2 separate regions of the Homo sapiens genome follow, and region 2 is linked to region 1. Evidence: fine-mapped expression QTL. A gene starts in region 1. The other region holds a variant in brackets. All regions are shown on one strand. Distances are between the middles of the regions.

Region 1 (4,387 bases):
TGCTTTTGCCTGGCTGTTCTCCGACAGGTCTTGCGCCTTGGCCCCAGAGGCTGGGGTGACCTGTGCCATGGCCAAGGAGGGGGACACTCCAGCAATGGTTTACACGTGGAGCCAGGGTCCCAAGTGGTGCTCAGTCCTTCCCAGTGAATCCCCAGCCCTTCTCCAGTTTCTCACTTCTCTCCCCAAGGCCTTTCCCCAGTCACCTCTCCCTTGGGAGCGCTGCGTTTCCTTCTGGCCTTTCAGTGGAGGGGACTTTTCATACTTCCTCCTCCCACCATAAGCCTGAGTGGCAGGGGAAGAGGTTCTGGGGACTTTCTGAGGCCAACATGGCTAGGAGAGAGAGGAGTCCTATAGCAAGGAATCCTTATCTCACGAGGGCACTGACCTTCCAGCGTGTTCTGGGGAGTATCAGCTGCTATTCCCAGGAGAGGCACAAAGTCCCAGGTAGAAGGGAGGAGCTGTCCCCAGCAGCCTGGGGTCTCTAGCCCCGGTCCACCATCACAGCACCCTTGGAGTGAGTGTCAGGGAGTGTGGGATATTTGCCCAAGTCCAGCCACCACCCCTGTCCGAGTAGAGCCCACACAGTATTGGAAAGAGAAATATAGCCACTGCTTTCACTCCTGGGAGTAGGGGTGCCCTGGTTGCTTTCACCAGCCTGCAAGAGTATAGTCAGGGTGAGGTGCTGGAGAACATCAACAACGATCTGGGTTCAAATCCCAGCTTTGCCACTTATTAGCCATGTTGCTGTGTCAACTTCTCTGAGCTTCAGTTTATTCCACTGTTGTGTAAAGATAATGCCTCTTAGGGCTGTTGTGAGCATTAGCACAGTGCCTGGCATATAGTAAATACTCAATATATGGTAGCCATATTATTATAATTGTAATTGTTACTACCACCACTGTCGTCTATTTATTTATTTATTTATTTATTTTTTTGAGACTGAGTCTTGCTCTGTTGCCCAGGCTGGAGTGCAGTGGCACCATCTTGGCTCACTGCAACCTCCGCCTCCCAGGTTCAAGCAATTCTCATGCCTCAGCCTCCTGAGTAGCTGGGATTACAGGTGTGTGCCAAAACATCTGGCTAATTTTTTTTTTTTTTTTTTTTTTGGTAGAGACGGGGTTTCGCCATGTTGGCCAGGCTGGTCTTGAACTCCTGGCCTCAAGTGATCTGCCTGCTTCGGCCTCTGAAAGTGTTGGGATTACAGGCATGAACCACCACGCCTGGCCTGTCATCCCTTCAAATGTTCTTTCAGAACTGAGGCATGCAGAGGCTGGAAGACAGGCTGGGCTCACCGGGGTGGTTATCTCTGAGAGAGGACATGGGTGAGGTCAGAGGCCTCTCCCTGGAGAAGGAGGTAGGTGGAGAAGCCAGATGGCATCCAGATAAGGAAGACCAGCATCTCCTTGAGAGTGTACACGGGAGCACGAGATGGGGAGGGAGGCTGAGTGCTCCTTACAGGCCCACCCTGTTGCCTCCAGGTGTTAGCTGCTGTTGTCCTGGGTCTTCAGTGTTGACCGTCGCATGGCATTTGGGCAGCTGGTTCTGCTGGGTTATGGTCCTCATGTCCCTGGCACAGACACAGCCATTGCCTGCTGGCACTTGATACCTACTCATATTCCATTTCTCTATTCCAAACACACTGGATTGCATGGCCCAGGGCGCCACGGTGTGCACCATTGTCTGGCCCACACTCACCTAGAATACATACCAGGATCTCCTACCCACTCCTTAGGTACAAGAAGAAGAAGGGGTTCTGGCCGGGCATGGTGGCTCACACCTGTAATCCCAGCACTTTGAGAGGCCGAGGTGGGTGGGTCACAAGGTCAGGAGATTGAGACCATCCTGGCTAACACGGTGAAACCCCGTCTCTACTAAAAAACACACACAAAAAAATTAGCTGGGCGTGGTGGCAGGCACCTGTAGTCCCAGCTACTCGGGAGGCTGAGGCAGGAGAATGGCGTGAACTTGGGAGGCGGAGCTTGCAGTGAGCCGAGATTGCGCCATTGCACTCCAGCCTCGGCGATAGAGCAAGACTCCGTCTCAAAAAAAAAAAAAAAAGGGGGGTTCTGGCCTTAATCTGCCTCCAGCTCAGTTATAAGGTGGCTTATCTAAAGGCTTGGGAGGTGGGGCACCCAGCCCTACCCACCCGTCCAGGAAGTTCCACACCTGGACAACTTTCAGTTTCATTATTTTAGCTTCCTGAGATTCAGAGGCCAGGAACTGTGCAGAGATCTGTGGGGATTCTCACAACTTCCATTTCTGGTGAACAGCTGAGGTCAGAGAGGAGGTGGGTACCACTTGAGATGGGCCTGTGGTTCCCGGGTACTGTCTTTCCAGACACCTAGAATTCCCAGGTTGGTAGTGAACTGAGAGTCAACCACCATGATGGGGCCAGAGACAGAGGAGGAAGCAGTGAGTGGATAAGTGCCTGTGCTGGGCAGAAGGGATATAGGGGAAGGTGGCCAAAGGTAGGATGGGGAAGTGGATCCCAGGAAGCTTTTGTTTCTTCTGAGGCCAATTTACCACCACCTCATTGGGAAATTGTTGGTAGGGAGGCACCCATCCAATTGCCTTGCAGAATACAGCAAGGCAGGGAGCCCAAGAATCAGAGCCAAGGGAAGAAACGACCAGTTGAGGTTAGTAATGTGAAGTCTGGCAACCGTGCCCGTCATTCCTCCCTGGTTCCTCTGTTCATCAACGTTGGGGCTAGTCTGGCTGGGGCATGGTGGGCCTGCCTTTCCATCCCTTGGGCCCCTTGGAACAAGGGGGCAACTCTGCTGTGGGAGATGTAGAAAATGGGTCTCACTTTCTCTATTTGGGGCAATAGCTGCTACTTTTTTCCTCCAGATGGGTACCATGAGGGGCAGAGGAGAATCTGGGATCTGTGATGTTTAGCCCTCTTTACTGAGTCATGGCTGCCTCACGTTCTAGAAGTAAGGCAGGCAAATCATTCCAGGTACTGATTGTCCTGGAACCTTTGGCTCTTCCTTGACCTCATGTCACGTGCGTCCATGTGAAGAGAGTCCACGAAACGGGCTTTATATGAGCAACAAGGCTGGGTGCAGGCAAGCTGAGTCCAAAAAAGGGGTCAGCAAAGGGTGGTGGCATTATCATTAGTTCTTATATGTTTGGGATAGGCTTACAAAGTACATTCTCAAGGGTGGAGAAATATTACAAAGTACCTTCTTAAGGGCAGGGGAGAATATTACAAAGTACCTTCTTAAGGGCGGCGGCGGGGAGACTATATTGTATCAGGGTGGGGCAGGAACAAATCACAATGGTGGAATGTCATCAGTTAAGGCTATTTTCATTTCTTTTGTGGATCTTCAGTTGCTTCAGGCCATCTGGATGTATACATGCAGGTCACAGGGAATATGATGGCTTAGCTTGGGTTCAGAGGCCTGACACCTCAGGCTGCCAAATGTGGAAGATTTAAATACTTGAACCAATACCCTCCTCCCAAAAACTGAAATTGGCTTCTGTTTCTGAGTTGGTCCAGGCGCAATGTTCAGCGTATTTGAGGAAATCACAAGAATTGTAGTTAAGGAGATGGATGCTGGAGGGGATATGATTGCCGTTAGAAGCCTTGTTGATGCTGATAGATTCCGCTGCTTCCATCTGGTGGGGGAGAAGAGAACTTTCTTTGGATGCCGGCACTACACAACAGGCCTCACCCTGATGGACATTCTGGACACAGATGGGGACAAGTGGTTAGATGAACTGGATTCTGGGCTCCAAGGTCAGTATAAGGTAGATGACAGGTGGCCAGCCAGGAGGCCTTGACCGTTTGTACTCCATCTCCTTCTCAATTCCCCATTGTTATCAACCAATCAACAACGAAACTGTGGGATTTGTACACATCCACACACCTTAATTTAAGAAATGCACGGAAGAGCTGCATGGTGGGAGGAGAGTGGGAGAAGTGGAGATTTATTTCCACTGGAAACCGTTCCTAAATGGTCTTCCTTTTCCATTTTTTCCCTTGTAAAATAATCTGCTTTTAATTTAGCGAGCTCTTCTCATGTGTTTATCATTTAAATGAATAAGTAAATGAGGGCAGTTTGCTTACTGGTTAAGAAAGGATGCAGGCTTTAGGGCTGGAAGCACCTGGTTTCAAAGCCTGGCTCTGCCTCTTATCAGCTGCGTAACCTTTGGACAAGTTGTTTTATTGCTCTAAGTTTCAGTTTCCTCCTGTGTCAACTCTAGAGGACTGTTGTAAGAATCAAGTGAGGGATGGGTGCGGTGGCTCACTCCTGTAATCCCAGCACTTTGGGAGGCCGAGGTGGGCGGATCACGAGGTCAGGAGATCGAGACCATCCTGGCTAACACAGTGAAACCCCGTCTCTGCTTAAAAAAAAAAAATACAAAAAATTAGCCAGGCGTGGTG
Region 2 (4,393 bases), 97 kb after region 1:
GAGCCTGCACAGAACAGGGTGACCCTGGACCCAGCCCAGGAAACCATTTTTGCCTCCTAGACCTTTGGGCCTGTGATGGGAGGGGCCGCTGTGAAGGTCTCTGATATGCCTTGGAGCCATTTTCCCCATTGTCTTTGTAATTAACATTAGGCACCTCATTACTTATGCAAATTTATGCAGCTGGTTTGAATTTCTCCTCAAAATGGGTTTTTCTTTTCTATCACATTGTCAGGCTGCAAATTTTCCAAACTTTTATGCCCTGCTTCCTCTTGAACGCTTTGCTGCTTAGAAATTTCTTCCACCAGATACCTTAAATCATCTCTCTCAAGTTCAAAGTTCCATAGATCTCTAGGGCAGGGGCAAAATACTGCCAGTCTCTTTGCTGAAGCATAGCAAAAGTTACCTTTGCTCCAGTTCCCAAGCAGTTCCTCATCTCCATCTGAGACCACCTCAGCCTGGACTTCATTGTCCATATCACTGTCAGCATTTTGGTCGAAACCATTCAACAAGTCTCTAGGAAGTTCCAAGCTTTCCCACATCTTCCTGTCTTCTGAACCCTCCAAGTCTCTAGGAAGTTCCAAACTTTCCCACATTTTTCTGTCTTCTTCTGAGCCCTCCAAACTGTTCCAACCTCTGTCTTTTACCCAGTTCCAAAGTTGCTTCCACATTTTTGGGTATCTTTATAGCAGCACCCCACTCTCTGTGGTGCCAATATACTGAATTAGTCCACTCTCACACTGCTATGAAGAAATACCCAGCTGGGCACGGTGGCTCATGCCTATAATCCCAGCACTTTGGGAGGCTGAGGCAGGCAGATCATGAGGTCAGGAGATCGAGACCATCTTGGCTAACATGGTGAAACCCTGTCTCTACTAAAAATACAAAAAATTAGCTGGGCGTGGTGGTGGGCACCTGTAGTTCCAGCTACTCAGGAGGCTGAGGCAGGAGAATGGTGTGAATCCAGGAGGCGGAGCTTGCAGTGAGCCAAGATCGCGCCACTGCACTCCAGGCTGGGCAACAGAGCAAGACTCCATCTCAAAAAAAAAAAAAAAAAAGAAAGAAATACCCAAGACTGGGTAATTTATAAAGAAGAAAAGAAGTTTAATTGACTCACAGTTCTGCATGGCTGGGGAGGCCTCAGGAAACTTACAATCATGGCAGAAAGTACCTCTTCACAGGGTGGCAGAAGAGAGAGTGAGTGCCAGAGGGGAAATATCGGATACTCATTAAACCATCAGATCTTGTGAGAACTCACTCACTGTCACGAGAACAGCATGGGGGAAACCACCTCCATGATTCATTTACCTCCCACTGGGTCCCTCCTATGACATGGGATTATGGGGCTTACAATTCAAGATGAGATTTGGGTGGGGACACAGCCAAACCATATCACCTGGGTAATGGGCATATTCAATGTGTGAATCTTGATTATCACAAAGCCAGTTCCACATGGCTTGCATATGAAGCATATCAGCTGCTTCATCTGGGGTATTCCAGTTGGCATTGAAAGGGGAAGTCAGATAGTTCCCTTTCTCAGGGTAAATAGACCTTATAATGGCTCTTATCTGGTCCACCAGGTCAGCTGTTCCCTTAGGAATGACCTGCTCTGTGTCTGGATCATGTGTAGCCATCTGTGATTGTTCCATAGTGAGCTGTGGATCCTATATAAACCCAAACATGCTCTTCCACTCTGAAGCATTTAAAAGCCAAGATACTGCCCCTAAATTATTTATTCTTACAATTCATTTTAGTCAAAATTCTTTAGGAAGCTGATGGTACTGATCTACAAAATAAAGTAACTCTTTCACACTATACCCCCTGGTTTCAGTAGTTTCTTGGTTTTGCCCTCCCCTACCTGGACTCTCTTTTTGGTGACCAGAGATCTTAGAGGTATTTTCTGTTTTTCCCACATATTTTTTCCATTAGAGGCAGCTTTGGGTCTAGCATCCGAAGTTCAGGCCCACCAGAATCTGAGCGTGGTTCAGCATCAAGGTCCAACCCAACACTCTTTTTAACTTTCATTTTAGCTGTTGCAGATAACAATAACCATTGGATTGTGTATTTCACTTTTTTCTTATTAGTTTGCATTTCCTTAAGCATTCAGTGAACCAGCTCCCCAGGAGTTGGGTTCATCTTTAAATTTCACTGGTAACTTTTACCTTTAGTAACTGATCACAGCCCCTTTGCTGCTCCTTAGGTGACTATATGGCCACTCAGGAATCAAAATTTCCTCATCCCCTACCCTTTTATTTTATCCTTCCAAACCATATGTTTCTGTGAGCCTGGGCTGATCTAGCAAATCCCACTCCAATTCTGGGGTGTTTTCCATCCACAACCAAATCTCTAGGCCATTCCGTTGTTGGGTGTCCAACAATTCAATTCAATTCTGATACTAACTCTGAGAATTAGTACAGACCACACAGGTTAAGGGCTCAGTCCCACAGACC[G/A]CCCCTACTTCAGACACCAGTCTCAAGTACCAGGCCCTCAGGTGACCCACACTTCTTCCAACTTGGGCAAATTTGAGTGTTCCCACATCCTTCCTCAGGTTTAGTAATTTTCTGGAATGACCCACAGAGCTCAAAAAGTTTCTTTACTTATCATTACCAGTTTATTATAAAAGATACAACTCAGGAACAGCCAAATGGAAGGGAGGCATAGAGCAAGGAAGGGGTGACGTGGAGCTTCCATACTTTCTCTGGGCATGCCACACCCCCAGCTCCTGAAGCTCTCTGAATCTTGTTGTTCAAGAACGTTTATAGGACTCAATCTCCAGCTCCCTTTCCTCTCTCTTCTTCCCTGAGGTCACTGGGTGGGGCTGAAAGGTCCAACGCTCTAATTACCAGGTCCTTCTGGTGAACAGCTCCATCCTGAGGCTGTCTAGTGGCCCCAGCCTCAGCTACCTCGTTAGCATAATCTAAGGTGCTATTGAAAGGGGCTCGTTATGAATACAAAAGACACTCCTGCCCCTGCTACTTAGAAGCTGAGGCAGGAGGATCTAGTGAGAAAAACAAAACAAAACAAAACAAAGCAAAACAATACTCCTATCACTTAGGAAATTCCAAGGGCTTAGAAGTTCTGTGCTTGATCCTGGGAGCAGGAACAAAGACCAAATATGTTTTTGTATTATACCACAGTTTGGAAAGTTCATTGAAATAGAAAGAAAAAAGAAAACCCCACCTCTATCCTACCACCCAAAGATAGTCTCTAATAGCATTACAGAGTACTTACTTCCAGGCTTTTTTGTGAGTTTTGAGCATTATATTCACATTAATATTGCTCACATTTTATAGTGATATTTATGTTGATAAATCTAATCACTTTTGCTTTATGAATGTTACTCTGTTACTCAGATCTCATCTTAAATGTCATTTCTTCAGAAAAGCTTTTCCTGACAATTCAGTCACTATTTTAACACAGCCCTGTTTTAATTCATCGCATGACACTGAACACAGATAACTTTGGAGTTTTGTTTAGTGTCTACTCTCCTTCCAGCCTTCTTGGGCTATTTTTTTCCTTGCTAGATATTTACAGTACCTAGAACAGTACCTGGCCCTACTGTGGTAGGTGTGCAATAAATATTTGTTGAGTAAGTGACTAAATGAAAGCCCTAGGTCAGTTATATGTGTGTATACATGAGTTTCTTAAAGGAAGAAAAGAAAATAGGCTGGGTGCAGTGGCTTGGCTCACGCCTGTAATCCCAATACTTTGAGAGGCCAAGGTGGGCGGATTTTTCTGGAGGTCAGGAGTTCGAGACCAGCCTGGGCAACATGGTAAAACCCCATCTCTACAAAAAAAAAATTTTTTTTTAATTAGCTTTGTGTGTGCCTGTAGTCCCAGCTACTTGGGAGGCTGAGGTGGGAGGATCACTTGAGCCCAGGAGGCAGAGGTTGCAGTGAGCCAAGATTGCACCACTGCACTCCAGCCTGGACAATAGAGTGAGACTCCTTTTCAAGAAAAGAAAATCATTTCTCAGAGTCTTTTTCTTTTGTCTTAAATTTCTTAAGAGACCAAGAAATTGAGTTATTTGTCTAAAACTTCTGAGATTCAAATCACAGCTTCAACTAACATTCCAGCTGTACTGAGCTATACATTAATTTGTACCAGTTTTTAACCACAGAGACAGAAAAATGCTGCCTGGCACAGGATGTGGTCATTTGTGCTGAGGAAAGGCATATGATGTTGTATCAGCTTCGTGCAACTTCTTGAAGGTGACATCCATGGAGTCTCACTCAGAATGAGGCAAATGATAGCTGTGCCTGTGGCTTGTTTTTTTTCTGAGTTACAGTTTCTGAGTTCTGGTAGGTAATACCATTAAATTTGTAGTTGAAATAGTGATCCCTATGCCACTGTTGGTTTGGGAATTTATAATTTATGTTATAAATTTACTTTGGGT

The links. PIP is the estimated chance that this variant, and not a neighbour inherited with it, causes the effect.
Region 2: its variant is fine-mapped to the expression of GSDMB in whole blood (TOPMed, PIP above 0.99).

The regions. Positions count from the first base shown.
Region 1 is chr17:39,916,434-39,920,820 of GRCh38, reverse strand. GSDMB (gasdermin B) reads left to right here and starts at 2,186. Exons shown (of 11, transcript NM_001165958.2): 1 at 2,186-2,287; 2 at 3,491-3,739. The coding sequence starts at 3,505. RefSeq lists a cis regulatory region at 1,920-1,933, promoters at 1,912-2,274, 2,998-3,406, 2,957-3,586 and an enhancer at 4,138-4,387.
Region 2 is chr17:39,819,245-39,823,637 of GRCh38, reverse strand. All of the region lies in intron 3 of IKZF3 (IKAROS family zinc finger 3), which reads left to right. Among named protein-coding and RNA genes, the nearest start is that of IKZF3, 43 kb to the left of the region's middle. The variant G/A (reference allele first, on the strand shown) is at 2,448.